7 separate regions of the Homo sapiens genome follow, and regions 1, 2, 3, 4, 6 and 7 are each linked to region 5. Evidence: fine-mapped expression QTL. A gene starts in region 5. Each other region holds a variant in brackets. All regions are shown on one strand. Distances are between the middles of the regions.

What was found. PIP is the estimated chance that this variant, and not a neighbour inherited with it, causes the effect. A credible set is the group of variants that fine-mapping cannot tell apart.
Region 1: its variant is fine-mapped to the expression of C13orf46 in whole blood (TOPMed, PIP above 0.99).
Region 2: its variant is the best candidate, but not a certain one, in a credible set for the expression of C13orf46 in whole blood (INTERVAL, PIP 0.71).
Region 3: its variant is fine-mapped to the expression of C13orf46 in whole blood (INTERVAL, PIP 0.97).
Region 4: its variant is fine-mapped to the expression of C13orf46 in monocytes after Pam3CSK4 (Quach 2016, PIP 0.95).
Region 6: its variant is fine-mapped to the expression of C13orf46 in whole blood (TOPMed, PIP above 0.99).
Region 7: its variant is fine-mapped to the expression of C13orf46 in whole blood (INTERVAL, PIP 0.91).

The regions. Positions count from the first base shown.
Region 1 is chr13:114,136,373-114,140,437 of GRCh38, forward strand. No RefSeq gene overlaps it. Among named protein-coding and RNA genes, the nearest start is that of RASA3, 5.8 kb to the left of the region's middle. The variant T/C (reference allele first, on the strand shown) is at 1,770.
Region 2 is chr13:114,073,946-114,078,010 of GRCh38, forward strand. All of the region lies in intron 1 of RASA3 (RAS p21 protein activator 3), which reads right to left. Among named protein-coding and RNA genes, the nearest start is that of RASA3-IT1, 34 kb to the right of the region's middle. RefSeq lists an enhancer at 1-345. The variant G/A (reference allele first, on the strand shown) is at 2,500.
Region 3 is chr13:114,028,153-114,032,217 of GRCh38, forward strand. It overlaps RASA3 (RAS p21 protein activator 3), which reads right to left. Exons shown (of 24, transcript NM_007368.4): 5 at 1,659-1,735. Among named protein-coding and RNA genes, the nearest start is that of C13orf46, 56 kb to the left of the region's middle. RefSeq lists an enhancer at 3,039-3,980. The variant GGGCAAGACTCACACAGGA/G (reference allele first, on the strand shown) is at 2,223.
Region 4 is chr13:113,992,247-113,996,311 of GRCh38, forward strand. It overlaps RASA3 (RAS p21 protein activator 3), which reads right to left. Exons shown (of 24, transcript NM_007368.4): 22 at 239-342. Among named protein-coding and RNA genes, the nearest start is that of C13orf46, 20 kb to the left of the region's middle. The variant T/C (reference allele first, on the strand shown) is at 2,124.
Region 5 is chr13:113,971,600-113,975,653 of GRCh38, forward strand. C13orf46 (chromosome 13 open reading frame 46) reads right to left here and starts at 2,477. Exons shown (of 7, transcript NM_001365455.2): 1 at 2,209-2,477. The coding sequence starts at 2,398.
Region 6 is chr13:113,937,636-113,941,700 of GRCh38, forward strand. It overlaps a transcript of C13orf46 not described here. Among named protein-coding and RNA genes, the nearest start is that of SWINGN, 11 kb to the left of the region's middle. The variant G/GCTT (reference allele first, on the strand shown) is at 1,524.
Region 7 is chr13:114,121,442-114,125,506 of GRCh38, forward strand. All of the region lies in intron 1 of RASA3 (RAS p21 protein activator 3), which reads right to left. LOC107987192 (a long non-coding RNA gene) reads right to left here. Exons shown (of 2, transcript XR_001750050.2): 2 at 3,846-4,065. Among named protein-coding and RNA genes, the nearest start is that of RASA3, 9.1 kb to the right of the region's middle. The variant C/T (reference allele first, on the strand shown) is at 2,030.

The DNA of each region.
Region 1 (4,065 bases), 160 kb after region 5:
TCTCTTAGAGCTGTGATAATATGAGCTGGGAAATAAAATACTGAGAGAAGAAAGGATCAGATGATGACCCAATAGAAAATCTCTATAATTTCTTCTTTCAATGACCTTGGTGTTACACTTTGCTCTCTTTGGATATACTCTTCTGTTCACATATCAACCCATTGACAAGTGGACATTCATTCATTTCCAAAACAGCATTATTAGATCATGTCTGAACAATCTACTTTCAAAGGATTTGAAGCCACATAAATGACCAGTACACAACGGAATAATTTTTGGAGGGTTCAAAGTAAGAACTGAAGGAAGAACGGTGGAATCAGGTATCTGAACCTGAAAGAGCCCATCCTGCCAGGTGCATCCCAAGGGGCTCACTGGGCCTGAATTCAAAATGGAGGCACGCGACCTTTTGCTCACTAGAGGTCACACGCCAGCTCTGCGTTCCCGGAAGTGCTGGAAATTTCACAGCTGTCTGTTCATGCTGCTGGAATCAACCAAGGCCAGAAAATCCCAATTTGCCCTCTGGACCAAACCAATAGACTGCTACCAGGCTCTACCAAACAGAATGAAGCAAGTCTGCCTCCCTTATCTGCATAAAGGCCAGAATGAGATCCTGGGCAGGAATTCCCTTGTGGAAGACAATCGCATGTTTCTTCTCTGGAATGCACCTTTGTTTTGTTCCAAAGGCAGCATCTCCCAGTTTGCAAACTGCTTGCTGGAATAATGTCTCTTTCCCCTTTTTTTTTTTTTTTTTGAGATGGAGTTTCGCTCTTGTTGCCCAGGCTGGAGTGCAATGGCGCAATCTCGGCGCTCACCACAACCTCCGCATCCCAGGTTCAAGCAATTCTCCTGCCTCAGCCTCCCGAGTAGCTGGGATTACAGGCATGCACCACTATGCCTGGCTAATTTTGTATTTTTAGTAGAGACAGGGTTTCTCCATGTTGAGGATGGTCTCGAACTCCTGACTTCAGGTGATCCGCCCGCCTCAGCCTCCCAAAGTACTGGGGTTACAGGCGTGAGCCACCGCGCCCGGCCTGTCTCTTTCCTTTTAAAAGAAATTTTTTTAGTGGATTTGTTGACACATGTAAGGTGAGAACAGCTGAACGTAAAGCTACACACTGAGCTTCCGGATAGCCAAGGTGAAAAGGGAAATATGGAAATATGAATCTTACACAAGTCACATTATCTGATAAAAGGAAGCATGTCAGACTTTCAGGAAAGACAGTACTTTAGCCCACAAGGCAATACAAGAAATTTTTTAGGGAATTCTTTTCAAAAGGAATATTGGACAAGTTAGGGGAGGATGTTTTTAATCTCAAATGACACTCACTACAGGGCCTAGAACATGGTAAATGCTCAATGAATGTTTGTTGAATGAATGTAGTAAAAATATAACATTAAATCATAATTCTCGCATAAAATTTATGTAGGCACTTAGAAGTCAAAGAAAGTAGCTTTCTAGTGACCTGATGAGCTGCGAAAGAACACATTTGGAGAATCTAGAGAGATGAATAAATAGCCACCGAAGAGTCTTTCTCAAACATTAGTTGAGCCACACAACTGAGAGAAGCAGACAGGTCCACTCCAAGATTCCTGTGGATGCCGAGGCCTGGTGGTCTGTGTTGTTGATGGACAGGAGACGCAATGCTGTGCTGGGTTTATCAACTACAGTCGGAGGCTCAGGTGGGCCTTACCACGGAGCATCATGGTCTCGCTCTCATCTTCTTGAAATGCAGAGAGAGAGGAAAGAAGCAGCCTAGACCCCCGAGTCA[T/C]GAAGCAGACAGCAGTGGGTGTAGACACGGTGGCGGTGGGTGTAGACACGGTGGAGGTGGGTGTAGACACGGTGGAAGTGGGTGTAGACACGGTGGTGGGTGTAGACATGGTGGAGGTGGGTGTAGACACGGTGGAGGTGGGTGTAGACACGGTGGTGGGTGTAGACACGGCGGTGGGTGTAGACACGGTGGAGGTGGGTGTAGACACGGTGGTGGGTGTAGACACGGTGGTGGTGGGTGTAGACACGGTGGAGGTGGGTTTAGACACGGTGGTGGGTGTAGACACGGTGGTGGGTGTAGACACGGTGGAGGTGGGTGTAGACACGGTGGTGGGTGTAGACACGGTGGCGGTGGGTGTAGACACGGTGGAGGTGGGTTTAGACACGGTGGTGGGTGTAGACACGGTGGTGGGTGTAGACACGGTGGAGGTGGGTGTAGACACGGTGGTGGGTGTAGACACGGTGGCGGTGGGTGTAGACGCGGTGGAGGTGGGTGTAGACACGGTGGTGGGTTTAGACACGGTGGTGGGTGTAGACACAGTGGTGGTGGGTGTAGACACGGTGGAGGTGGGTGTAGACACGGCGGTGGGTGTAGACACGGTGGCGGTGGGTGTAGACGCGGTGGAGGTGGGTGTAGACACGGTGGTGGGTTTAGACACGGTGGTGGGTGTAGACACGGCGGTGGTGGGTGTAGACACGGTGGTGGTGGGTGTAGACACGGCGGAGGTGGGTGTAGACACGGCGGAGGTGGGTGTAGACACGGTGGTGGGTGTAGACACAGCGGTGGTGGGTGTAGACACGGCGGAGGTGGGTGTAGACACGGTGGTGGGTGTAGACACAGTGGTGGTGGGTGTAGACACGGTGGAGGTGGGTTTAGACACGGCGGTGGGTGTAGACACGGTGGAGGTGGGTGTAGACATGGAGGTGGGTTTAGACACGGTGGAGGTGGGTGTAGACACGGTGGTGGGTGTAGACACGGTGGCGGTGGGTGTAGACACGGTGGCGGTGGGTGTAGACACGGTGGTGGGTGTAGACACGGTGGTGGTGGGTGTAGACACGGTGGAGGTGGATGTAGACAGGGTGGTGGGTGTAGACAAGGTGGAGTTGGGTGTAGACACGGTGGTGGTGGGTGTAGACACGGTGGTGGTGGGTGTAGACACGGTGGTGGGTGTAGACACGGTGGTGGTGGGTGTAGACACGGTGGAGGTGGATGTAGACAGGGTGGTGGGTGTAGACAAGGTGGAGTTGGGTGTAGACACGGTGGTGGTGGGTGTAGACATGGCGGAGGTGGGTGTAGACACGGTGGAGGTGGGTGTAGACACGGCGGTGGGTGTAGACACGGTGGAGGTGGGTGTAGACATGGTGGTGGGTGTAGACACGGTGGTGGTGGGTGTAGACACGGTGGCGGTGGGTGTAGACACAGTGGAGGTGGTTTTAGACATGGTGGTGGGTGTAGACACGGCGGAGGTGAGTGTAGACACGGCAGAGGTGGGTGTAGACACGGTGGTGGGTGTAGACACGGCGGTGGGTGTAGACATGGTGGAGGTGGGTGTAGACAGGGTGGTGGGTGTAGACACGGTGGAGGTGGGTGTAGACACGGTGGAGGTGGGTGTAGACACGGTGGTGGGTGTAGACACGGTGGCGGTGGGTGTAGACACGGTGGTGGGTGTAGACACGATGGTGGGTGTAGACACGGTGGAGGTGGGTGTAGACACGGTGGTGGGTGTAGACACAGTGGCGGTGGGTGTAGACACGGCGGTGGGTGTAGACATGGTGGAGGTGGGTGTAGACAGGGTGGTGGGTGTAGACACGGTGGAGGTGGGTGTAGACACGGTGGTGGGTGTAGACACGGTGGCGGTGGGTGTAGACACGGTGGCGGTGAGTGTAGACACGGTGGAGGTGGGTGTAGACACGGTGGTGGGTGTAGACACGGTGGAGGTGGGTGTAGACACGGTGGCAGCACCGCACGGAACACTCAAAGCCCACTTTCTGGCTGTGATGGCCGAGGAGAGCTGCCTCCCCTCCGAGTGGCCCATCCTAGGTACCCTTGAGCCTCACAAGCTCAGTTGCCAACCTCCCTGCTTCAGGGAGGGGTGGGGCAGCGGGTGGGACAGGAAATTCACCAGGTTGTGCAGGGCAGGGCAGGAGAGCAGAGGGAGACGCTCACGCCCCCGCCCCCAGGCCCGCAGAAGCCGTGGGTGCTGATGAATGCCCCTCAGCCCACAAATCCCTGGCACCTTGACTGTGACAACGATCGCGGCTGCTTTCATTATACTTAGGAGTTGTGAACCACCGCG
Region 2 (4,065 bases), 100 kb after region 5:
TAAAGCCTTGGTTTTTTTGCCACCACAAGTCAAAATGTGGATGTGCACCCCATGTGTACTGCCGAAAGGCGAGGGACATGCACGCCACCCTCTAATGCAAGTCCCGCAAGCAGGGACCTGCCAGCCTGGGACTCAGGATTGCTGTGTCTTGTTTACCTGCATTAGTCCCTTTATTTTAATTTTTAACATACAATTTTCCATCTCTGACCTGCTCGCGTGCACAGTTCTGTGGCATTAACCACGTTCACCGAGTTGTGCAACCATCACCACCGTCCTCTCTGGAACACTCTCGTCTTCCCAAACGGAGACTCGGTCCCCATTCAACACTCACTCCCATCCCCCTCCTGCTGTCTCCCAGTGGCCCTCACCCCACTTTCTGTCTCTGTGGATCTGACTACTCTGGGGCCTCACGTCGGCGGGATCCACAGGACGTGTCCTTTCAGCCCGGCTCACTCTACTCAGCAAATGTCCTCCAGGGTGGCCCCTGCTGTGGCCGCTGACTGGATTCCCTTCTATTTTAAGGTTGAATAACTTCCATGATGCAAAGGGACCTCGTCTTGCTTATTCATTTATCCACTGAGTCCCTTTTTATTTTGAATTTTATTTTATATTAGGTCAAAGTTGGAGCCAGAATTAAAGGAAAGAGCTCTTTCTTGTGGACGTGAGTTAACTGTAAACTCCAGCTGTTCGAATTGCCAGTAAAGAGAAGCGTCCCAGAGGGACCTAAGCTAGGTCCACCTCTCCCTCCTTCAAGCCCACAGAGACGCCACCTGGACGTGCTTGAAGGAAGTGGGGCCAGTTCCTGGCTGGCCCTGCAGAAAACGCCCGTGATCCCGGACTCCTTGTTTGCCAGGGGTCAGTCTGGAGGTCATAACTGAACCCCAGCTGCGACTTCTCTGCTGGAAGCTCGGAGCATGCCCCAGCGGCAAGCCTAACGGCCCAGTTTACTGGAGAATAGGGAGTGAGCAGGAAGGGATGAGTGACAGCTGTCAATCCAGACAGCGGATGCCCAGTTTAAGTCCATTCTGTAAAAAAAACGCCTCAAACACACTCGCGCCTCCCCAGGGCCTTTTCTGCCTCCGTCATTTGGCTCTAAAGACGCCTGGCAGTGGCGTCTCCACGACGCAGGATGAGAGGACAGATGCAGGCACAGGCACCACGCTGAGACCACACCAAGGCTCCTGCTGGCGCCACTCAGGGCCACATCACCTTATTCTTGTTGAAACAAACAAAATCAAAAACGGGAGCAGAGTAGAAGTTTCTCAGAACCCCACTTCCGCCACTCCGCGCTGAATGTTTCGCGTCAACTCAGCAAGCGCACACGTCATGGCTCACATGGGGCAGTCGGCTCATTTCAAAGATGCCAGTTTGCAAACTGGCATGCCAGCAACTCCAAAGGGCAGAGATAAACTCAGTTTGAAGCTTTTTAAAGACTTTTCATCCACAATATTAACCTGAGGCACTGTGAGAAGGAGCAGAAGCCCCAGGGTCTGGACAACGCCTCCCGTGTCCGCGCCGCGTATCTCTGCGTGTGGAGGCACCGGCAGGACGAAGCCTCCCGTGTCGGCGCCGCGTATCTCTGGGTGTGGAGGCGCCGGCAGGACGAAGCCTCCCGTGTCCGCGCCGCGTATCTCTGCGTGTGGAGGCGCCGGCAGGACGAAGCCTCCCGTGTCCGCACCGCGTATCTCTGCGTGTGGAGGCGCCGGCAGGACGAAGCCTCCCGTGTCCGCACCGCGTATCTCTGCGTGTGGAGGCGCCGGCAGGACGAAGCCGCCCGTGTCGGCGCCGCGTATCTCTGGGTGTGGAGGCGCCGGCAGGACGAAGCCTCCCGTGTCCGCGCCGCGTATCTCTGCGTGTGGAGGCGCCGGCAGGACGAAGCCTCCCGTGTCGGCGCCGCGTATCTCTACGTGTGGAGGCGCCGGCAGGACGAAGCCTCCCGTGTCCGCGCCGCGTATCTCTGCGTGTGGAGGCGCCGGCAGGACGAAGCCTCCCGTGTCGGCGCCGCGTATCTCTGGGTGTGGAGGCGCCGGCAGGACGAAGCCTCCCGTGTCGGCGCCGCGTATCTCTGCGTGTGGAGGCGCCGGCAGGCGTTCCCAGCAGCACCCGCTGCTGCCCACACGGAGCAGCTCTCAGGGTCTCACTGCTTGCGGCCGTTTCCCGCCAGTGCCCCCAACACACAGTCTACCTCTCTGGGCCTCAAAGTCCTGAACTGCAAAAGCAAGAGACACAGCAGCTCTCGAAGGCTCCTCCGGCTCTGAGACGCCTCTAATTCAAAAGGTTCTGGAAATTTTTATTTTGGGAATCATTAAGGAAGCATCAATGATAATCGGTTGGTGGGAAAAAATGAGTATTTCCTGATAGGCACTGGACCCTCAGAACACCTCAACACGGCGACTCTCCCGGGATGCGCCTTCTTCACCCGCTGCATGGGAGAACACAGCTAGGCTGCTACGAGGCACCTGGCTCCAGGCCAGGCCTCAGGTCGGTCATCCCATGTCA[G/A]AAGACAGGCTTTCCGAAGGCTCCCACCGATGTGAAGATCCCACACGCAGCACACGCACACACGCAGCGCACACACGCAGCACACGCACGCAGGCAGCACCGCACACACACGCAGCACACGCAGGCAGCACACGCACACACACGCGGCACACGCAGGCAGGGTGTGTGATGAGTTCACAGGCACGAAGGGGAGAACATGGCCGGCGAGCTTCTCCAGAGAGGGAAGGGAGCCTGGGGGATGGCAGTTGAGGTTCCCGGAGCAGACGCAGCCTTCCTGGTGGCCGCGGCTGCCCCTGAATTTGAGGGCAGCCGCAGCACACCCAGCAAGTCGGACAGGGGCCCCTCCAGCCTCCCGGCCCTGTTTTGGAACTGACGGCTTCTGCAGCAGATAGAAGTCCTTACCCTCAAACACAGCTTGACTTTGCTGACTTTCCTTCTGACACCTTTACAGTGTGACCTGACGCTGACCATATTTCCCTTGGGATTTTACTGGGTTTTTTGTTTTTGTCTTTGGGAGTTTTTTGTTTTTGTTTTGTTTTCTGGGATTTCTTTGTTTTTTGCAACAAATGAGTGTAGATATTTAGCTGTAAGTTCCTGTGTTTCTTAAAAGGAGAGAGAAAAAAGCTTTTGAAAGTCCTGTGGGAGATGGTGTTTGTGGATAATACGGAACTGAGATTTGTTCCCACAGGGCCTCAAATCACAGCAGTAACAGCTGGGTCTTCCGAAGGCGGACACTGCAGGACGGAAACACACAAGCTTTCTGTGGAGTCCCTGTAAGACAGACGCCGTACGACATGAAAAGGCCGGATCCCCCTGCGCTGGCGCCAACACACCAGATTCATCCCTCCCTGCCTGATGATGCCCAGTCCCACCGCACTGGCACCAACGCACCAGGTTCCTCCATCCCTGCCTGACGATGCCCAGTCCTACCGCACTGGCACCAACGCACCCAATTCATCCCTCCGTCCCTGCCTGACGATGCCCAGTCCCCCCACACTGGCACCAACACACCGGATTCATCCCTTCCTCCCTCCCCACTCAATGATGCCCAGTCCCCCCACACTGGCACCAACGCACCGGATTCATCCCTCCCTCCCTGCCCGACGATGCCCAGTCCCACCGCACTGGCACCAATGCACCGGATTCATCCTTCCTCCCTGCCCGACAATGCCCAGTCCCCCCACACTGGCACCAACGCACCGGATTCATCCCTCCCTCCCTCCCTGCCCAACGATGCCCAGTTCCCCCGCACTGGCACCAAGGCACCGGGTTCCTCCCTCCCTGCCCGATGATGCCCAGTCCCCTGGCCCCAAAACACACCAGGTTCCTCCCTCCCCGCCCGATGGCCCCGTCTTTACCTCCTTCTCCTTGCTCACTGTCATCTGGGGCTGAGACTCTTTCTTTTTAATCTACTTTTGCTATGATGCATTTAATAAAAAAAAAAGTGGGGGGACAAAATGCAAGCCCATTTCCCTGCCTCAGGCTTCTGATGCCATCACCTCCAAGGCACTGGTTTTGTTTCCAACTGTTAATAAAGCATTGAAACAGAAAAAAAAAAAAAAAACT
Region 3 (4,065 bases), 57 kb after region 5:
AGCGTGGACGCCAGCAGTGTGTGACAGCACATCTAAAGCAGCGTCATCGGGGGGGCGGGGGGCAGGACCCCTAAAACAGTGTCATCCTGGGGGCCAGGACCCCTAAAACAGCATCATCTGGGAGCCAGGACCCCTAAAACAGTGTCATCTGGGAGCCAGGATCTCTAAAACAGCGTCATCCTGGGGGCCAGGACCCCTAAAACAGTGTCATCCTGGGGGCCAGGGCCCCTAAAACAGCATCATCTGGGAGCTAAGACCTCTAAAACAGCATCATCCTGGGGGCCAGGACCCCTAAAACAGCGTCATCTGGGAGCCAGGACCCCTAAAACAGTGTCATCTGGGAGCCAGGACCTCTAAAACAGCGTCATCCTGGGGGCCCAGAACCTCTAAAACAGCGTCATCCTGGAAGGGGGCCAGAACTTCTAAAACAGCATCATCCTGGGGCAACCTCTAAAACGGCATCATCCTGGGGGCCAGGACCTCTAAAACAGCATCATCCTGGGGCCAGGACCTCTAAAACAGTGTCATCCTGGGGCCAGGACCTCTAAAACGGCATCATCCTGGGGCCAGGACCTCTAAAACGGCATCATCCTGGGGCCAGGACCTCTAAAACAGTGTCATCCTGGGGCCAGGACCTCTAAAACGGCGTCATCCTGGGGCCAGGACCTCTAAAACGGCATCATCCTGGGGGCCAGGACCTCTAAAACGGCATCATCCTGGGGCCAGGACCTCTAAAACAGTGTCATCCTGGGGCCAGGACCTCTAAAACGGCATCATCCTGGGGCCAGGACCTCTAAAACGGCATCATCCTGGGGCCAGGACCTCTAAAACGGCATCATCCTGGGGCCAGGACCTCTAAAACGGCATCATCCTGGAGGCCAGGACCTCTAAAACGGCATCATCCTGGGGCCAGGACCTCTAAAACGGCATCATCCTGGGGGCCAGGACCTCTAAAACGGCATCATCCTGGGGCCAGGACCTCTAAAACGACGTCATCCTGGGGGCCAGGACCTCTAAAACAGCTTCATCCTGGTGGGCCAGGACCTCTAAAACGGCGTCATCCTGGGGGCCAGGACCTCTAAAACGGCATCATCCTGGGGCCAGGACCTCTAAAACGGCATCATCCTGGGGCCAGGACCTCTAAAACGGCATCATCCTGGGGGCCAGGACCTCTAAAACGGCATCATCCTGGGGCCAGGACCTCTAAAACGGCATCATCCTGGGGCCAGGACCTCTAAAACGACGTCATCCTGGGGGCCAGGACCTCTAAAACGGCATCATCCTGGGGGCCAGGACCTCTAAAACGGCGTCATCCTGGGGGCCAGGACCTCTAAAACGGCGTCATCCTGGGGGCCAGGACCTCTAAAACGGCGTCATCCTGGGGGCCAGGACCTCTAAAACAGCATCATCCTGGTGGGCCAGGACCTCTAAAACGGCGTCATCCTGGGGGCCAGGACCTCTAAAATGGCGTCATCCTGGTGGGCCAGGACCCCTAAAACAGCATCATCCTGGTGGGCCAGGACCTCTAAACAGTGTCATCCTGGGCAGCCACCGGCTCTGGAAATTCTTGTGCGTTGGTGTGAAAACCCCTGTGTGCTCCTCGGGAGCCAGACATGCCACTCGCTGTGCGCTCGGTCTCTAGTGAGGACGTGTCTTACCGTGTGGCGAGCTTGTGGCAGACGACCCCAGTGTCTGTGATGACCTCGCTCAGCCGCAGCTCCAGGTGCACTTTGCCCTGCAAGGCACAAGGATGGGGTGTCAGAGGCTGTGGCGCTGCTCCCACAGGCCACTAGGGCCGCGCGCCCAGGGAAAGCCTAGAGGGCAAAGGGAGCAGGCGGCCCCGCCCTGCCCTGGCCAATGGGCACGTCCAGCCCCTCCACTCCACCCCCGGGACGCAGGGTCCCAGCTGTGGCCTTTCTCCAGGAGAGCTGCTTGCCTGACTGCTCAGCCCCATGTGGCTGCCCAGGCTCCTGGCTCTGCTGAGAGCAGGTCGCTGCCTCAGAAGTGAGGGGTCCAACCGTGTAGGAGACGGTCATTCAGTGAAGCAGACCCCCAAAGGCTCTGATGCTGCAGGCTGCTCGTGTGTCCGTCGGGACAAACCAGAGGGGAAGCACAGCTGTCTCCCAAGCAGGGGCCACTGCCTTTACCTCCCCTCGGGCGAGGCCGGATGGAGGCCCGCAGGAACCTCGGAGAGCTCACACAGAGGGCAAGGCTCACACAGA[GGGCAAGACTCACACAGGA/G]GGCAAGACTCACGCAGAGAGCAAGACTCACACAGAGGGCAAGGCTCACACAGAGGGCAAGGCTCACACAGAGGGCAAGGCTCACACAGAGGGCAAGACTCACACAGAGGGCAAGACTCACACAGAGAGCAAGACTCACACAGAGGGCAAGACTCACACAGACAGCAAGGCTCACGGGGGCTTCTAGCAGAGCAGACAGCAAGGCTGCCCTGCGGGTCCACCTGTCTCTCTAGATCAGTCTGTCTGTGTGTGCTGCTGTGTCCATCCACCTGTCTGTCTGTGTGCACGGCTGTGGGTGTGTGTCCACCTGTCTGTGCGTACAACTGTGTGTCTGCCTGTGTGCGTGCGGTTTGTGTGTGCAGCTGTGTATGTGAGCATGCTGCTGTGTGTGCATGTCCACCTGTATGTGTGTCCGCCTGTGTCTGTGCATCTGGCTGTGTGTGTGCAGCTGTGTGTCCTCCTGTGTGTGCGGCTGTGTGTCTACCTGTGTGCGTGCAACTGTGTGTGTCTATGTGTGTCTGCCTATGCATGCATGCGACTATGTGTGTCCATCTGTGCTGCTGTGTGCGTGTCTGCCTGTGTAGCTGTGTGTCCGCCTGTGTGTGCGGCTGTGTGTCTGCCTGTGTGCGTGCAACTGTGTGTCCATCTGTGTGTGGCTGTGTCCACCTGTGTGCATGCGACTGTGTGTCTACCTGTGTGTGCATGTGATTGTGTGTATCTGCTTGTATGTGTCCACCTGTGTGCATGTTCGCCTGTGTGTGCATGCAGCTGTGTGTGTCTGCCTGTCTGTGCATGTGGCTATGTGTCTGTGTGGGCGTGCGATTGTGTGTGCGTGTCCGTCTGTGTGCACACGGCTGTGTGTCTGCCTGTGTTTGCATGAAACTGTGTGTGTCTGCCTGTCGGTGTCTGCCTGTCTGTATGTGCATCTGCCTGTCTGTGTGTTTGGCTGTGTGTGTCCTTCTGTGTGTGTGTGCGACTATGTGTGCATGTCTGTCTGTGTGCAAGCAGCTGTGTGTGCATCTGCCTGTATGTGCATGCAACTCTGTGTGTGTCTACCTGTCTGTAGTGTGTGGCTGTGTGCATGTCCTTCTGTGTGTGTGCGCGACTGTGTCTGCCTGTCTGTGCGCGTGGCTGTGTGTCCACCTGTGTATGTGTGTTTGTCCGCCTGTCTGTACATGCGACTGTGTGTGCATGTCTGCCTGTGTGTGCACCGCCTGTGTGTATGTGTGACTGTGTCCACCTGTGTGTGTGTGCGGCTATGTGTGCCTACCTGTGTGTGCCGCTGTCCCTGTATTTGCTCCAGCCTGAATGGCAATGAATGGATGGGATAAACACAGACTCATCCATGCTTCAGGGGCTCTGCCTGGCCCGGCCCTTAGCTCTAGCTCCTGAGGCTCCGGGAAGGCCAAGGCGTGTTCCCCAGGGCTTGTCCCTGCCTGTGGGAGGGTGGGACAGACGGGCAGAATGCCTGGCGCTAAGACGTGGACGGCAGAACCGACAGCAGCCCTGCAGCACGTGGCCTGGTGCAGAACCTCGGATGGAGCAGGGACCTCGCTTAGGCCCCACCCACCTAAATGATTAAAAAACCTTCGAGTTCCTTCAAAAATATATCAGACACCTAGCCAGCCTTGAGTGGTAAATCACCTAACAAGCAAAATAAATAATAAAATAATAGCCAAAAAATTAGTCAGGAGATATTTATTCCCTATACAAGTTAAAAATAGCATCTTAACATATGTCCCTAAATTGTTTTTCAAAAACCGAGACCCTCACCAAACAGATCTACCAACACAGACCACAAATGCAGGGGGGATCACAGGCCCGA
Region 4 (4,065 bases), 21 kb after region 5:
AGTTAAATTCCATCTAAAAATTATCTATAGAACCTATTATACAGGTAATTGTCCCCCAGATAGCTGCCTACCCTGCAAAAAGCTTTTCGCATCCATCCGTGCTACAAAGACAACTACATGTAGCCCACACTACACCAGAGGCTCAGACCACAGGTTTTCACCCCACAGCATGCTCCTGAGGCCGGGGCCTCGCCAGCCATCCCCTCGCTGCACAGATCTGTGTGCCGGGCAGACTCACCCTGCATCTTCTCCAGCTTGCTCATGTACAAGTTGAAGAGGGAGTAGATACGCTCCGTCTCACGGTCCCCATCAATGTCCAGCTGGATGTTGGCTGGGAGGCCGCTGTCCAGACACAGCAAGAACAGAAAGATAAAAACACTTATTTAAACGATGCTTTTAATAATGACATTCATTTTTAAAATGTCACTGAAGAAAGACAACGATTGTGTTGGAAGTGAAATTCGACAGGATCGATTTGCTGTCCGTCTGTGCACAGCCGGTGTGTTGGCTTGCTGAGCAAGGCTGACAGCGTCCACAGCAGCACGGACAGCAGTGTCACCAGGCTGCAAACCGGAACTAACTAGCAACCTCTGCTTCAGTTACCATTGGCCTATTTGGACACGTGGCAAAAGATCCTTGCTGTTTAGTATTTAAAATGTGCTTATCATTTGTACTAACTGACCTTTCCTGAAATCACGCAGTACTGAGTTATGTCTTGTTTAAATCTATTCCTACTCCAGAATCTTATCAATACATAAGAAATTTAGGAAGACTAGGTGCTAAAATCCCCAGTGTAATATGTAATACTTGTACATTTTTAGTATCATACAGAACTCAATTCCCAGGAACTATGAACACTCCAGACCTCATGTGGTTTATTCCTTCAGTCATTTCAAACACAGAAGGAGGCTGTGTGCTTGTTTCCCTGCTCATTCTATGTCTGCTTCTCCTATGTTCACACCAGCACACGTCAGGCTGGAGCGCGGTGGCACGATCTCAGCTCACTGAAACCTACGCTTTCTGGGTTTAAGCGATTCTCTTGCCTCAGCCTCCTGAGTAGCTGGGATTATAGGCACACACCACCACGCCTGGCTAATTTTTGTATTTTTAGTAGAGATGGGGTTTCACCATGTTGGCCAGGCTGGTCTTGAACTCCTGAGCTCAGGTGATCCACCCACCTCGACCTCCCAAAGTGCTAGGATTACAGGCGTGAGCCACTGAGCCCGGCCTCATGTCTTTTTATAAATCTTACTTTGTGTTATTATGAAAAACCTCCATAGCCGGGTGTGGTGGCTCACACCTGTAGTCCCCACACTTTTGGGAGGCCGAGGCAGGTGGATCATCTGAAGTCAGGAGTTCAAGACCATCCTGGCCAACATGGTGAGACCCTGTCTCTATTAAAAATACAAAAATTAGCCAGGTGTGGTGGTGCACACCTATAATCCCAGCTGCCTGGGAGGCTGAGGCAGGAGAATCGCTTGAACCTGGAAGGTGGAGGTTGCAGTGAGCCGAAATCACACCACTGCACTTCAGCCTGGGCAACAGAGCGAGACTCTGCCTAAAAAAAAAAAAAAAAAAAAAAAAAGAAAAGAAAAGAAAATCTACATTGTACAGAAGCACGTCTTTGATGGCTTCAGACAAAGTGGCCTCACGGTTAATTTCACATTTGCACGCAGGTGCAACCAACAGGGAGGGCCTGATAGGAACGCGCGGGGCTGTTATTTTTAGCAAAATGCTGCCTTGTGCAGAACGTGTGAAATATGCTCTTTAATTTAGTAAATACTTTTTAAAAGGCAGAAATGCTTATTATAGCTAAAACAATTCTTAAATCATAAAATTTCTGAAACGTCTGTAATTTTTTCCATACTGATTAGAAATTGTTTCCAACTTATTTTTGTTTGAAGTATGACAGTTTTTCCCTTTTCTTCCCAACTTCTCTTGTAAAAAAAGAAGTGGGTTTCTGCTAATGAACTGATCAGATGTCAATACTGTATATGCCTTTTGAGCTGAGTAGCTCAGTATTTGGATACTTGGTCATTTGTTTTATTAGGTAATTGATAAAATTGTGTCACTTATTCATGTTCAACCATATATTTATGCTGTCTGGGGATGGGTGGTTATAG[T/C]TCTGTGTGAGAAATAATTTGTCAGTCTTCAACAGCTTGTAAAAACTTTGCAGTGAGAGCTTAAACATCTAAATAAATAATGAAATGCATTTATCATAAAAAAAAGAAGAAAGAAGATGAAGTGACCAACATTAAAACACATCCCTGGCCAGTCAGGGAGTTCATGTGGGTAATCCCAGCACTCTGGGAGGCCGAGGCAAGAAGGATCGCTTGAGCCCAGGAGTTTGAGCAACACCACCCTGGGCAACATGGAGAGACCCTCACAGTGAGACCTGGCAACATAGTGAGACCCCGTCTCTACAAAAAACCAAAATTTAATGAGCTGGGCTGGTGGCATCAGCCTGTAATCCCAGCTACTTGGGAGAGTGAAGTGGGAGGACTGCTTGAGCCCAGAAGTTTGAGACCAGTCTGGGCAACGTGGTGAAACCCCGTTTCTACAAAAAACCTTAAAACAATTAGCCTGGAATGGTGGAGCACACCTGTAGTCCCAGGTACCTGGGAGGCTGAGGTGGGAGGATGGCTTGAGCCTAGGAGGTCGAGGCTGCAGTGAGCTGAGATTGCACCACTGTACTCCAGCCCGGGTGACAGAACGAGATCCCATCTCAAAGACATAAAACTAAAAAAGCATCCCCGAGCTGGGAGAACTGAGGCTGGCTGTGGGTGTGCGGGATAGGGGAGGCTCCCGAGCTGTCCGGCCTCAGCGGCTGGAGCCTCTTGGGACCCACAGATCTGCCAAGGCAGTGAGCAAACTCGGCAGACGTGTTCTCATGGAGATAAATGGCCTGGAAGGAAGCCTCCTGGGACTGTGTTCCCTGCACGGTCGGCTGCGGGTGGGGACAGGCCAGGTTTTCTCTCCTCGTCAGGCTGCAATGCTTCCCGCTGTCCTGGGATGCGAGGACATGGGAGAGCGCTGGCCTCTCCTGGGGGATTCTGGGGCGGTGGCCACGCATGCCTGAGCAGCAGCCAGGCCCCCTTCCTGAGCTTCAGCCTCTGTGTCCACGAAGCAGGATCTAAGGTCCCACCTCTGAGGCTGTGGGAGGATTAAACGGTGGCCCAGCATGGAGCACAGCTCATCCCCTGCAGGGCCCTTATGCGAAAGCATCACGTGGCCACAACAACAGCGAGGTGCATCTCACGGAGCATAACCAGGGGGACCGCCAGGCACCCAGGCCTCCTCCTTAGGACCGGCAGATATGACCCAAGCCTCTGTGCAACTGCCAGAGGCCCGGCTGATGGGGGGCCCTGCTGATGGGGGGCCTGACAGGGGGCCCAGCTGACGGGGGGCCCAGCTGACGGAGGACCCAGCTGATGGGGGCCCGGCTGATGGGGGGCTGGCTGACGGAGGACCCAGCTGATGGGGGGCCCGGCTGACGGGGGCCCGGCTGACGGGGGCCCGGCTGACGGGGGGCCCGGCTGACGGGGGGTCCGGCTGATGGGGGTCCGGCTGACGGGGGGCCCGGCTGACGGGGGGCCCGGCTGACGGGGGGCCCGGCTGATGGGGAGGCCCGGCTGATGGGGAGGCCCGGCTGATGGGGGACCCGGCTGATGGGGGGCCCGGCTAATGGGGGGGCCCGGCTAATGGGGGGCCCGGCTGATGGGGGACCCGGCTGATGGGGAGGCCCGGCTGATGGGGAGGCCCGGCTGATGGGGGACCCGGCTGATGGGGGGGCCCGGCTGATGGGGGGGCCCGGCTGATGGGGGGCCCGGCTGATGGGGGGCCCGGCTGATGGGGACCCGGCTGATGGGGGGCCGGGAAGACAACGGGCTGCTGCGTCATGTGGAATCAAGGTGGGTGTCCTGGGCCAGACGAAGCTTTCAGGGAGGGGCTTGCTCCCAGCCTCCTCCTAGAGAAGCAGGATGGCCACGGCCTGGGGAGTCCCCCTTCACCCTGACCTCCCGCTCCCCCGGGGCAGGGCCTCAGGAAGACCCTCGAAGGCCTGTG
Region 5 (4,054 bases):
CCCAGGCCCAGACACACCCCACTGGTGCCCCCGTGAAGTCGGCCACCCCACGTCTCCCGCATCCCGGAGGCCTCCCTGTGAAGTGGACGCGGCGTCTCACACATCCGGGCACCTGTGGGTGCACGTGGCACTGGGCATGTCATGGAGCCCACCAAGTCTGCGAGGGGTGAGGAGCTGAGTCCCTGCAGAAACCAAGGCCACGTCGGACTCTACCAGTGGTCAGCAAGGCCCGGCCCTTCTCCTCGGGTCACAGGGCTGGAAATGCCTCCTGCTCTTCTCCGGCAGAATCTCAGTTGTCTGGGGGCAGCCACAAAGCTCCAGGGAGGATGCGCTCCTGGGCCGTGGTCTCGAACCCTGAGGGTGCTGGTGCCTGGGGGAGGCTGTGCAGGGTGGACATCTTTGCCAGACAGGACAAGCGGCCACACAGAAGCCCGGCCTCCCTGCTGCGGCACCTCCCATCGTGCAGTTTTGGGCAAATCCAGCAGGTGTTGAGGGAAATGTCAGCCACAATGGGGCTCAATCCCTCCCTCCATCCGACCCCGGCCTCTAAGTCCGCACTGTGGTGGCATCGGGCGGCATTATTGGAGATCCACTCCCCGCCCCAACTTAAATTCCCGCTAAGCAGCCTTGGCGTAACTTATTCTTTTGAGAACTTTGCACGTCTTGAGGGAACCCCGTGGGGAGGGAGGTAGGGTGCAGCCTCCTAACTACTCACGCCCCCCAAATAGCACATATTTGGATTTTTAAACTCAGAGAAGAACACATATTTTTACATCATTACCTCTTAAAATTGTCCCCAGGGCTTGAGCAAGCAAACCCCGAGTCCTACCGGGCTGTCTCACTTCCACGGCCCCGTGGACACCTTTGCGAAGGGGAGGCGGAGCTGCCGAGGCCGCGGGAGGGGAGGGGAGCGCCAGCTCGCAGCTCCGTGTCAGCCCCTCAGCCCTGTGCTCTGGGCCAGTATTCAAGGTGTGAGGAGGTGACTGCAGCACCATCCCCAGGCCCACACCACCGTCCGTTCGGCACACCTGGAAACATCTCAGAGTGGCGAGTGTGGACCGACACAGGGGCAGCCTACACGTTTCGCGGTTTAGAAGCCAACCGTGTCAAACACCAGCTACGCAGGTTCCTTGCTGGTGGGTGAGGCCCAGAGCTCCTGGCAGGGACCCAGGCCCTCACCAGGGCCTTCTTGCAAACGGGGCGCCTGGCTATGATCCTCCCTTCAGGCATCGGCTGGCTTCGGAGGCCCATGAGGGTCCCAGGCCTGCCCTCCTCTCACCCCTCCCGCCCTTGGCTGTGCCCGGCTGGAGCCCCCACAGCTCCGCCCCAGCAGCGCAAGGCCTTCCCAGCAGCCCTGGGTGGGTTACGGGTGTGGACCTGGAGTGCTCCCCACTTCCACCCTTAGCGTTCCGAGCACAGGGCAGCGGGAGGCAGGAGGCCCGGCCCGGTCCCTGCTGCCGGTGGAAGGAAAATGAATCTTGGGCCCTGAATCACTGAGCTAAGGGGAGGAGTAAGGCTGGGAATGTGTCAGACAAACCTGCCTCCCATCCTCTTCCTAAACAAGAGCTGCAGAGATAAACGGCCACAGGCCTCCCTCATCATTCACCCACGAGGAAATTCCTTGTGAGCCTTAAGATCTCTGCCCTAAGCAGTTTTGTGGAGTTTCACGCTGGGAATGCACGTGGACAGCTGACCGTCAACAGGCGCAGGACAGGGACAGAGATCACGGTCCTCCCTCTGCTCACCTGAGACAAGTGTGTCCGACAGCTCCCTCTGGGCTGCTCATGAAAAACCGCAGTCACGGAGCCGGACGAGGATACAAGTGACTCTCCCTCTAGTCCCCTCACGTGTAAATTGTGTGTTCAGTGAAAGGCTGATCGAGACCCAAAGAATGCAGCCCTGTGTCTCCTCTACCTACGACCTGGAAGCCCCTCCTGCTTCAGGCTGTCCCTTTCCGGACAGAACCGACGTACCCCCTCACAGGTGCTGATTGATGCCCCACGCCCCCCTGCAATGTATGACGTCAGGCCGTGCCCCGCCTTGGACACACGTCGTTGGACCTCCTGGGGCTGTCTCGGCGCATCCCTAACCTTGGGAACTTCCTAGAACTTTCTAACTGGGCTGGGCTCTGACGCAGGTACTTTGGGTTCAGTGCCTGGTGGGACAGCCGCGCCGTCCACCCGCTCCCCGCGGCCCCACAGCCCCTACCCAGCTCCTTGTGAGGCTTCCTAGGGCGGCTGGGAGGGTCCCCCTCGGGCTGCAGGCCTCCCAGACTCCTGCTTCGCTGAAGTTCAGAGGCCTCACTGGCCGCCTTGAGGTGCCCAAGGGCCACTCCTGAGGGCAGGGCCCTGAGGCCGGGCCGGTGCCTCCTGTGTGTGGTCCCCGTGTCCTTCTCCATCCTCCAGCCCAGCCTCGGCTTGAGCACAAGGCTGCCACCCTCACACCCAGCCGTCCCGCAGGGAGTAGTCAGGAGGTGCTGGGAGTGCGTTGCCATGGGTCTGCTGTGACATCACTGTAAGGTCAGAGGCCAAAGATCAGCCGATCCCTGGCAGCACAGCGTGGCTTTCCTGCAGGCCGGGGCTGGGGCGGGTTCTGCGTCTTCCCTTCTTCTTTCCCGCAGGCCGGGGCTGGGGCGGGTTCTGCGTCTTCCCTTCTTCTTTCCCGCAGGCCGGGGTTGGGGCGGGTTCTGCGTCTTCCCTTCTTCTTTCCCGCAGGCCGGGGCTGGGGCGGGTTCTGCGTCTTCCCTTCTTCTTTCCCGCAGGCCGGGGTTGGGGCGGGTTCTGCGTCTTCCCTTCTTCTTTCCCGCAGGCCGGGGCTGGGGCGGGTTCTGCGTCTTCCCTTCTTCTTTCCCGCAGGCCGGGGCTGGGGCGGGTTCTGCGTTTTCACATCTCTGGTCTCTCCACCAGGGAGGGCGGGGAACTGGCACCAGCCCTAGCAGGGCCTGCAGATGAGACGCCGGTCTCCCTCTGTGACAGGGTATTTGAATCTTTCTCTCCCTATCAGGGCAAATGGGACACAGATCAACTCAGGAAGACAAAGGCAGCCCCTGCAGGCAGTGGTGGGGTGCAAATGCTGCCGGCCCAGCGCCTCTCCCCACCCACACGGCGCCAGGACGAAACCCTGATGTGGCCGGGGCTCCGGCGAGGGCTTTCCGGGCCGACGGTGTGAACTGCACAGGTCAGCGTGGGTTTGCTGGCACTCCCAGGCAGGCGGCTTAAACAGCGGGAGCTCATTCCCTCCGGTGCTGGGGGCAAGGTGTCTCGCAGCGCTGGTTACCCGAGGCCTCTCTCCTTGGCGCGAAGATGACGTATTCCGTGTCCTCACGTGGTGGTCCTGTGTGCTGCGTCCTCGTCTCCCCTTCTCATGAGGACGCTGGTCACACTGGGTCAGGGCCTCGCTTTACCTTGACAATCTCTACAGCTCCACGCCCAAGTGCAGCCACACCCTGAGGTCCTGAGGGTCACAGGGTCACAGCTCCAGCATGAGGATTTGCCGGGACAGAGTTCAGCCTGTACTGAGCCGAACAGAAAATCCCCGGCACGCTGTCTCCTCCAGCCTCCAGACCACGGTGGGTGGGGAGGCAACATTTTACCTCTTGGGGTTTTTTGGTCGGGCCTGATAATTAAAATCAGCAGATGAGCTGGAGAAAGGCACACGCACTCCAGCACGGTCTGTGTGGCCGGGAATGGCCTTTCCTTCCTGAAAGAGGAGGTAACACCCCACGGGGAAGACGCTCTCCAGAGCCAGAAGAAAGCAGCGTTCTTATCCTTGTGGATGGCTGTTTCAGCTCAAAACAACCCTTACAACAGTGTGGCTTATTTGGGCAGCCCCTTCTGCCCCTTGACAGGCACCTCGCGAGCCGGCGCACCCCCCCGCCCCCAGGACCCGCTTCCCGCACCCGGGGCTCCTCAGCCAGGGGGAAGCAGGTGTGACCCCCAGGCTGCAGGCTCCCCTCCTTCTGATCTCTTCTTTTGAAGAGCCCACAGCCTCTCAGCACCCAGGAGGCCTCAGCTCTCTGGGCAAGTGGTGGGTGCAGGGTGGGGGCCTTGGCCTC
Region 6 (4,065 bases), 34 kb before region 5:
AGAGTTTGGTTTTACATATTTTAGGGAGACATGAGACATCAACATACATCGGATGAACGCTGGTTCGGTCCGGAAAGGCGGGACAGATGGAAGCAGGGAGGAGGCTTCCAGGTCGTAGGTAGATAAGAGACAAACGGTTGCACTCCTGAGTTTCTGATTAGCCTTTTACGGAATGCACAATTTACAGGAATGGTCACTCATGCCTGAGTCTGGCTCAGTGAAATGAGGGCAGAGGAAGTGATCAGCTGTGTGCGTTTGTCTCACGGGAGCAGTGGGGTGACTTTGAGTTCTGTCTGTGCTTTGTCCACAAGGAATTTCTTTGTGGGCAAATCGTGAGGCAGGCGTGTAGCTTTTTAAAATCTTTGTAGTTCCCTTACTCAGGAATAGAATGGGAGGCAGGTTTGCCTGGCACAGTTCCCAGCTGGACTTTTCTCTTAGGCTCAGCGATCTGGGGTCCCGAGAATGATTTTCCTTTCACAAGATGAACATGCAGCTCAAAGGGGGAGTGGGATGTGGTTGCGGCCTCAACTGAACGCCTCTCTGGACCCAATAATTAAAAGGACTTGCTCCTCAGATAAAAGTGCTTTTCTTTTCTCAATAGTGAGTCTATGAGGTTCCTATCTGCTGCTTTAACAGATTACCACAAACCTAGTGGCTTCCAACAGCTCAAATGTATTATCTTACAGTCCTGGAGGGGAAAGTGTGAAAAGGGCCTCAGGGTGCTGAAGGCAGGGCTGGCAGGAGCCTGGTGGAGAAGCCACTGCTTTCTTTTCTCAGCCTCCAGAGACGGCAGCAGCCTTGGCCCACGGCCCATCTTCAAACCCAGCATCTTCAAATTGCTCTCTCTTTGACCCGCCCACCTGCCTCTAAGGAGCCCAGACCTTACGCTGGGTCCAGCAGCCTCTCCATCCTCCCTAAACTCCAGGAGCACCCACCGAATAATCCAAGGCTATCTCCCGACTTGGGATTCCTAACCTAGTTCCCCCTGCAAGGTTGCCCTGTTCAAGCGTCCTGGGGGTTCAGCCTCCGACGTCTTTGGGAGGGGCCCTTGCTGTGCCCACCACTGGGAGTCGCTCCCTTCCACACGTCCGCCGTGAACTTTCCATTCCAGAAACACTGCACCAGCTGTAGCTTCTCTCAACACACAGCTCTTTCCTGTCTCCAGGTTTTGCTCAAACTTCCCACTGCCCAGCACGTCCTTCCAAACAGCCTTCACTCACTCTCAATCCCTATGGAAAACTCAGCTTGGGCCTCACGCCCAGGAAGCCTCCTGGCCCCAGGAGGCTCAGGCCCTGCTGTGCACACCACAGCACCTGCGGCCTCCCTGGGAACCCAGCCACCCCCACCCCAGGCCCACGTTTCCTCAGCCAGCTCCTCCCACGATCCCTTCCAAGCTGGCATTCCAGACCCGCCAGGTGCCTTTCACCCTGTTGTAAACTCCGGGAGGGCAGAATTCAGGTCGGACTCATCTCTGTGGCCTCAGTGGAACTTGCTCAGCTCAGGGTCAGGGACAACAGCGTCCG[G/GCTT]CTTCTCACTCCTTCAGGTCCCGGCCCTTTGCACATAGGCTTGGCTGCCTGACACGTTCCAGCCAAGGGCTGCAGCTGGCCCCTTCCCCCCGCCCCGGTGATGCCAGAAGCCACATGTTCCGGAGTGTGGAGCTGCAAGATGCAGGCAACCCAGAGCCAGAAGGGGACCACCCGATGGGGAGGACAGAGACCACCCGATGGGGAGGATGCAGACCACCCGATGGGGAGGACAGAGACCACCCGATGGGGAGGACGCAGACCACCCAACGGGGAACACGGGGATCACCCAACTGGGAAGATGGGGGCCACCTGGACGGGGGGAACGGGGACCACGTTGATGGGGAGGACAGAGACCACGTGGATGGGAAAGATGGGGACCACGTGGATGGGGAGGGCGGCACCACTCAGCCTGGTTCACACCTTTTGCAATAAGCAGCCGCCTCCTCCTGGGCTTTGGGCTGAAGGGGGACCTGCTCCAGGTTCTTAGCCGTGAAATGGGCACAGACCCGTTTCTCACCCCTGACAGGGAGGCTGTCCAGCCCTGGAGATGTTGTCACTCAGGCTCCCAGTGACCTCCTGTGCGCTGTGTATCCTGGGCCAGGGCACTGACCTCTCTGGGCCCAGCGCCATCTCATGCTCACAGGTCTGATGACAATACTTCTCAGGAGGTGCTGGGAAGGCCAAAGGGATCATCCCATGTGCTTCTAAGTCAAACACGATTCAGCGTGAAAAACACTGGCCTGGGTCATCAAGAAACCGGGTGCCAGGCAGGATGAAAGGAAGTGCCGCTGGCCTCATCTGAGCCAGAGCCTCCTGTCTGTCATGTGTGTGGGCTCTGACGCAGGGGGACCAGGATGCCCGGGTGGCAGCCGTGATCAGGGGAGGCATTCGGGCCACCTCAGAGGCCCCAAGAGGCTACCTGCCTGCCTGGCCCTGCCCATGCGGCCAAAGTCCACCCCAGGGGCGGGGGCTGCGCCTCGGCCTCAGATGCACCGTCAGCCGCATTTGGCTCCTCTTACTACTGAAGAGGGGAAGGAAGAGTGTGCAGCAGGGGCCTGGGCCGTTTCCCCGGAAGCGAAGAGCAGGAGGCCAGAGCCAGGTGGGCTCCCCTAGACCCTGCGGTGCTGCCGCCAAGCCCCCCACCCCCAGATGAGCCAGCCTGCAGCACACACTGGCGGGGTGGATGCCAGCCGAGTATTCCCAGGGGAAGCACTTTCCCTGTGCCACCCAGACAGAAGACGCAGGTGCTGGTTTCCTATGGGGCTCTGCGTGAGGATGGGCGTCTGGGACCCTGGTCTCCTCTAGGACTCCATGTGTGAGGCTGGGCATTCGAGACCCTGGTCTCTGGGACTCCATGTGTGAGGCTGAGCGTTCGAGACCCTGGTCTCTGGGACTCCATGTGTGAGGCTGAGCGTTCGAGACCCTGGTCTCTGGGACTCCATGTGTGAGGCTGAGCGTTCGAGATCCTGGTCTCCTCTGGGACTCCGTGTGTGAGGCTGAGCGTTCGAGACCCTGGTCTCTGGGACTCCATGTGTGAGGCTGAGCGTTCGAGATCCTGGTCTCCTCTGGGACTCCGTGTGTGAGGCTGAGCGTTCGAGACCCTGGTCTCTGGGACTCCATGTGTGAGGCTGAGCGTTCGAGACCCTGGTCTCTGGGACTCCATGTGTGAGGCTGAGCGTTCGAGATCCTGGTCTCCTCTGGGACTCCGTGTGTGAGGCTGAGCGTTCGAGACCCTGGTCTCTGGGACTCCATGTGTGAGGCTGAGCGTTCGAGACCCTGGTCTCTGGGACTCCATGTGTGAGGCTGAGCGTTCGAGATCCTGGTCTCCTCTGGGACTCCGTGTGTGAGGCTGAGCGTTCGAGACCCTGGTCTCTGGGACTCCATGTGTGAGGCTGAGCGTTCGAGACCCTGGTCTCTGGGACTCCATGTGTGAGGCTGAGCGTTCGAGATCCTGGTCTCCTCTGGGACTCCGTGTGTGAGGCTGAGCGTTCGAGACCCTGGTCTCTGGGACTCCATGTGTGAGGCTGAGCGTTCGAGATCCTGGTCTCCTCTGGGACTCCGTGTGTGAGGCTGAGCGTTCGAGACCCTGGTCTCTGGGACTCCATGTGTGAGGCTGAGCGTTCGAGACCCTGGTCTCTGGGACTCCATGTGTGAGGCTGAGCGTTCGAGATCCTGGTCTCCTCTGGGACTCCGTGTGTGAGGCTGAGCGTTCGAGACCCTGGTCTCTGGGACTCCATGTGTGAGGCTGAGCGTTCGAGACCCTGGTCTCTGGGACTCCATGTGTGAGGCTGAGCGTTCGAGATCCTGGTCTCTGGGACTCCATGTGTGAGGCTGAGCGTTCGAGACCCTGATCTCCTCTGGGACTCCATGTGTGAGGCTGGGCATTCGATACCCTGGTCTCTGGGACTCTGTGTGTGAGGCTGGGCGTCTGAGACCCAGGAACGTGCTGGAAACAGGAGCTGTTGACATCGTTTCCCAGGCTGGGCTGCTGCTGTTTCTCTGCCTGTCAGATGGAGACACAGTTCCAGCCTCGCAGGTGGCC
Region 7 (4,065 bases), 150 kb after region 5:
AGCCAACAGAAGCCCACCGGAGCCTCCCTTACCTCCACCCAACACTGCACATCAAGCCGTGCAACCCTGCCCCAAACGGTCCCAGGGTCATGGGTGTGCATACATGTGCATGTGTGCAAGCATGTCACAAGAGGAGACCTCCGAGGAACATAAGGATGCGGACTCCTCCCTCAGCCTGAACCTCTGTCTCTCAGGCACAGCTCGACCTTTGACCTTCGGCTTCCCCAGAGAAAGACTTTGAACGCTTCACTCCTCTGTAGCCCTGAGGACGCGGGCGGCCAGACCAGTCCCTGAGTGCGGCACCATGGCCGTGTGAGTTTATGGCCCATTGCGCTAGCCCTGTACAGTGAATGAGATACTAGTTGTTTACAGCTGTGAGCATACACAGGCCCCCCGCCACACGCTCAGGAAGGAGCTTCTCGGAATCTCTCTCCTGCCTCGCACCATGCAGCCGGGCTAGCAGGTTTGTGGGCCGAGTGCAGGAGCCTGCTCCCACTGTCACTGCAGGTGACTGGCTGAGGGGCACACAGGGCCCAGAGGCTCCTACCTCCAGCCACCGCCCCTAAACTAATGAAGATTCCAGTCCGTGGGGCCCACCGCAAATCCCAGAATCTCAGCAGTCAGTCTTGGACATTAGTTGTCGGGGAGGGAGAGGATCTGGGAGGCCAGGCGTCCCTTCCAGGCTGCGCAGCCGGCCACGGCGGCAGAGCTTCCCCAGGCTGCTCCAGCCTTCAGGGCCCCTCCGCGGTCAGCCCCACCCCCGGCCAGCAAGGCTTCCTGAGAAGGCTGAGCTTGGCACCTACAGACTGGGGGGGATCTGGAATTCCCCAGAAAAGCCCTCATCCCAAAGCCCATGGGAAAACCAGCCCTGTTGGAGCATCCCACCCGGACCTCGGAGGAGAGTCCGGCATGGCCAGTCCCCTGGGCTCTGCATGCAGATGGTTTTCCCAGAACCGGTTCCTCTTCCTGAATCTCTGCTAATGGCCCTGTCCATCAGTCTGACCCCAGCCTTGGAAACCCCCATGCAGCCTGGGCCAGAATGAAGTAGGCAACCAGAGGCTCAGGGTGCTTGGGGCCGAACCACCCCCAGCTCCACCACCTCCTTCCTGCCCCCGAGCCGTGCCTTCCCCCGCTGGGTGGGCTTGCTCTGCATCTGGGAGCACCTGGGCCCGGGGGTGCAGGTGGGTTCGCCCCTGCCCATTGGAGGGAAATGTTCTGACATGGAAGCAGAGGGCACAGCATTCAGGAGAACCAGTGGGGCCTCCACACAGGGGGACGCAGCTAGGAAGGGGGTCTCCGGCCGGTCGGCCCCGAGTGAGGGACGCAGCTAGGAAGGGGGTCTCCGGCAGGTCGGCCCCAGCCCTGACTCCAGGCCTGTGCATCTCACTGCTGCCCAAAGCAAGGACCACTGGCTGCCATGACAGCTGCCACAGTGCTGAGCAGGCCCAGCCAACGCTGCATGAGAAAGGGCTCTAGGAAGGAAAAGGCCGCGGCAGCACCCAGCCTCCTTTCTGAGGAAGCGATTCCACGAGCCACAAAAGCGCCTGGGCTGTGGTCATCAGAGTCCACCACAAGACAACCTTCCTGGGTCCCTACACCCTGGACACACCTTCGGTGCGTGCCCGGCATGGAGACGCTCCTGCTGCCGGCATGGCTTTGGGGACAGCACTTTGCTCCTGGAGCCTCAGAGGAGGGGGGCCGGAAACATGTGTCCTGCACAGTCACCACCGGACGCCGAGGTGGCCGCCCCAGCAGGGGCCATGGGCTGAGGCTGGTCCTCAGGCTCCCAGAGCAATGGCTGCTCTGGGGAAGAGAAAACACAGAAGTGACAAGATCAAGGCAAACTAGCTGCTCCAGCACCTCGAGGGTTTGGAACCAAAACAAGAAATCTCCAGAGCTGAAAAGAAGAGTGAAACCTTTTCCTTCAGAAGGAACACAGCTAAAGAGAAGATTTAGGGGTGCACGCAAGGGCCCTCAGGTACTCTGTGCAGCCCCTCAAAGCAGGGAAAAGGCCAGGAATGAAACCTAA[C/T]GCAGAAATGGGAACTGGCTCCAACGCCACACGAACAGCCAGCCTGGGTCTATCGCGCCCAGTTCAGACCCGGGCTGCAGCTTGGAGACGATGACGTCCAAAAACCAAGCTCCAGGAAGACACAACAACAATCACCCTTAGGCTTTGTCAGGCATCCCAGAGAATCCTCCGTCCTACCCTGGGCACGCCATGCGCACCAGGCAGGGAGGGTGGCTCTCAGCAAGGGGCTGAGGACTCTGGCCCATCCTGGGGCGAGGGAGGCACCCACGGGGTGGGCCATGCGGGGCTGGGAGCCACGGCCCCCATGCAGGTCCTAAGTGGACATCTGTCTGGTCGGTGGTCAGAAAAAGGATCCCCACGGTGTCTAGGAAAGACTCAGACCTCTTACCAACCTCTGGAATTTTATCCTATGGGCAGTCAGGGCCAAGACAGATGATTCTTTACAGGTTGGAAATTATTCGGATAACATAAAAGAAACAATGTAAAGAGGAAAGAACAGGTGCAGGAGTCGTTCCTCGATCAATTCCAGGTCAAGGCACCGGTTTCGGTCCCCAGTGCGGCTCCTGTCTCCTGACCCAGCCCCCCGGCCCAGCCCCCAGAAGCCCGGCACGGTGTCTCTCGGGACCCAGGACACGCAGGTCAGCGCTGCAGCCGTTACTGGCTGTGTTGTGATACCAGCAGGGCACTGACTGTCCCCAGAAGGAACAAAACTGAGACTTAAATTTGGGTGATTGTTCCAAATGTGGGATTCAAGCTTATTTGAAAACGAAAACTAAGAATGCCAAATTTCAGGGTGGCTAGAGCTACAGCCCCAGGAATCCAGCCCTGTCTGCAGAAACACACCTAATATTTTCAGACACTCATAGAACAAGGAACTACTATTTTTGAGAAAATACTCACAGAAAAACAAAATCTCCCAGACACTCTGATGCCGTTTGACCAATAACCCATGGGGAAACTCACTTCCGGGGATCCAGGCCCGACGAGGGCGTTCCCGGGCACCTCGGTGACTCTGAAACTCATATCTACAGCAAAGCTTGAACGTTTGTAACTGTTCACTTTGGACTCTGCGTCACACCCAGAGAGACCCTGAACCATCTGTCACAGGTGACGTAACCCTCAGTTCCCCTTCACCTGTGCCAGAGCCTCCCAGACACAAAGGCTGGAGCCCCAAAACCTGTCAGGGGCCTCTCAGGGGCCAGCCACAACTCACTCCGCCTGTCACTGCTGGACGCCCGCTGCGGCCTGACGGAGCCGCTCCTTCACCTGTCCACATGCATTTCCCACACAGCACATTGTCTTGAATGAAGGCAAGTTATTTTCTTTCTCGGCCTTGGCGTCCTCCACAGCCGACACTGTTCTTGCAATCTGTGAAGGGATGATTTCTAAGCTCCGCCTTTGTTCTTCACTCACTCACCCACCGTATACATAGTTGCACATTGATGCATAATAGACATATACTTGCTGCTACGGAAGGCCTTGTATTCCTGTCTCTCTTCCTACCACAGCACTCCTGCCATCCCACAGGTAATCCAATTAGCAGGCTGTGTGGGTCTTATCCCTGATCTGCGCACACTCATCTGATCTGTGTTTATCATTCTTCTAGGGGGTGGTGTTGGGCGCTCTCATTTTGCTTCTTTTGAATCTTATGCCGTGGAACTTCCTGCGAGTCATGTGGTTTGGCCTGGGCTTAATATGTTCCTTGAAAGCCACAGAGCAGCCCACATGTGGATGCACATGACATAATCACCGTTTCAGTTGGCGATTACTCATTGGGCTGTTCTTGCATTGCTATAAAGAAACACCTGAGACTGGGTAATTCAAAATAAACGAGGTTTATTGGTCACGGTGCTGCAAGCCGTACAGGAAGTATGGAGGCATCTGCTTCTGGGGAGGCCTCGGGAAGCTTCCAGTCATGGCAGAAGGTGAAGGGGGAGCAGGTGTCTCACACGGCGAGAGCGGGGGCAAGAGCGCGAGGTGGGAGGTGTGCCACCGGATCTCACGAGAACTCACTCACTATCGTGAGAACAGCACCA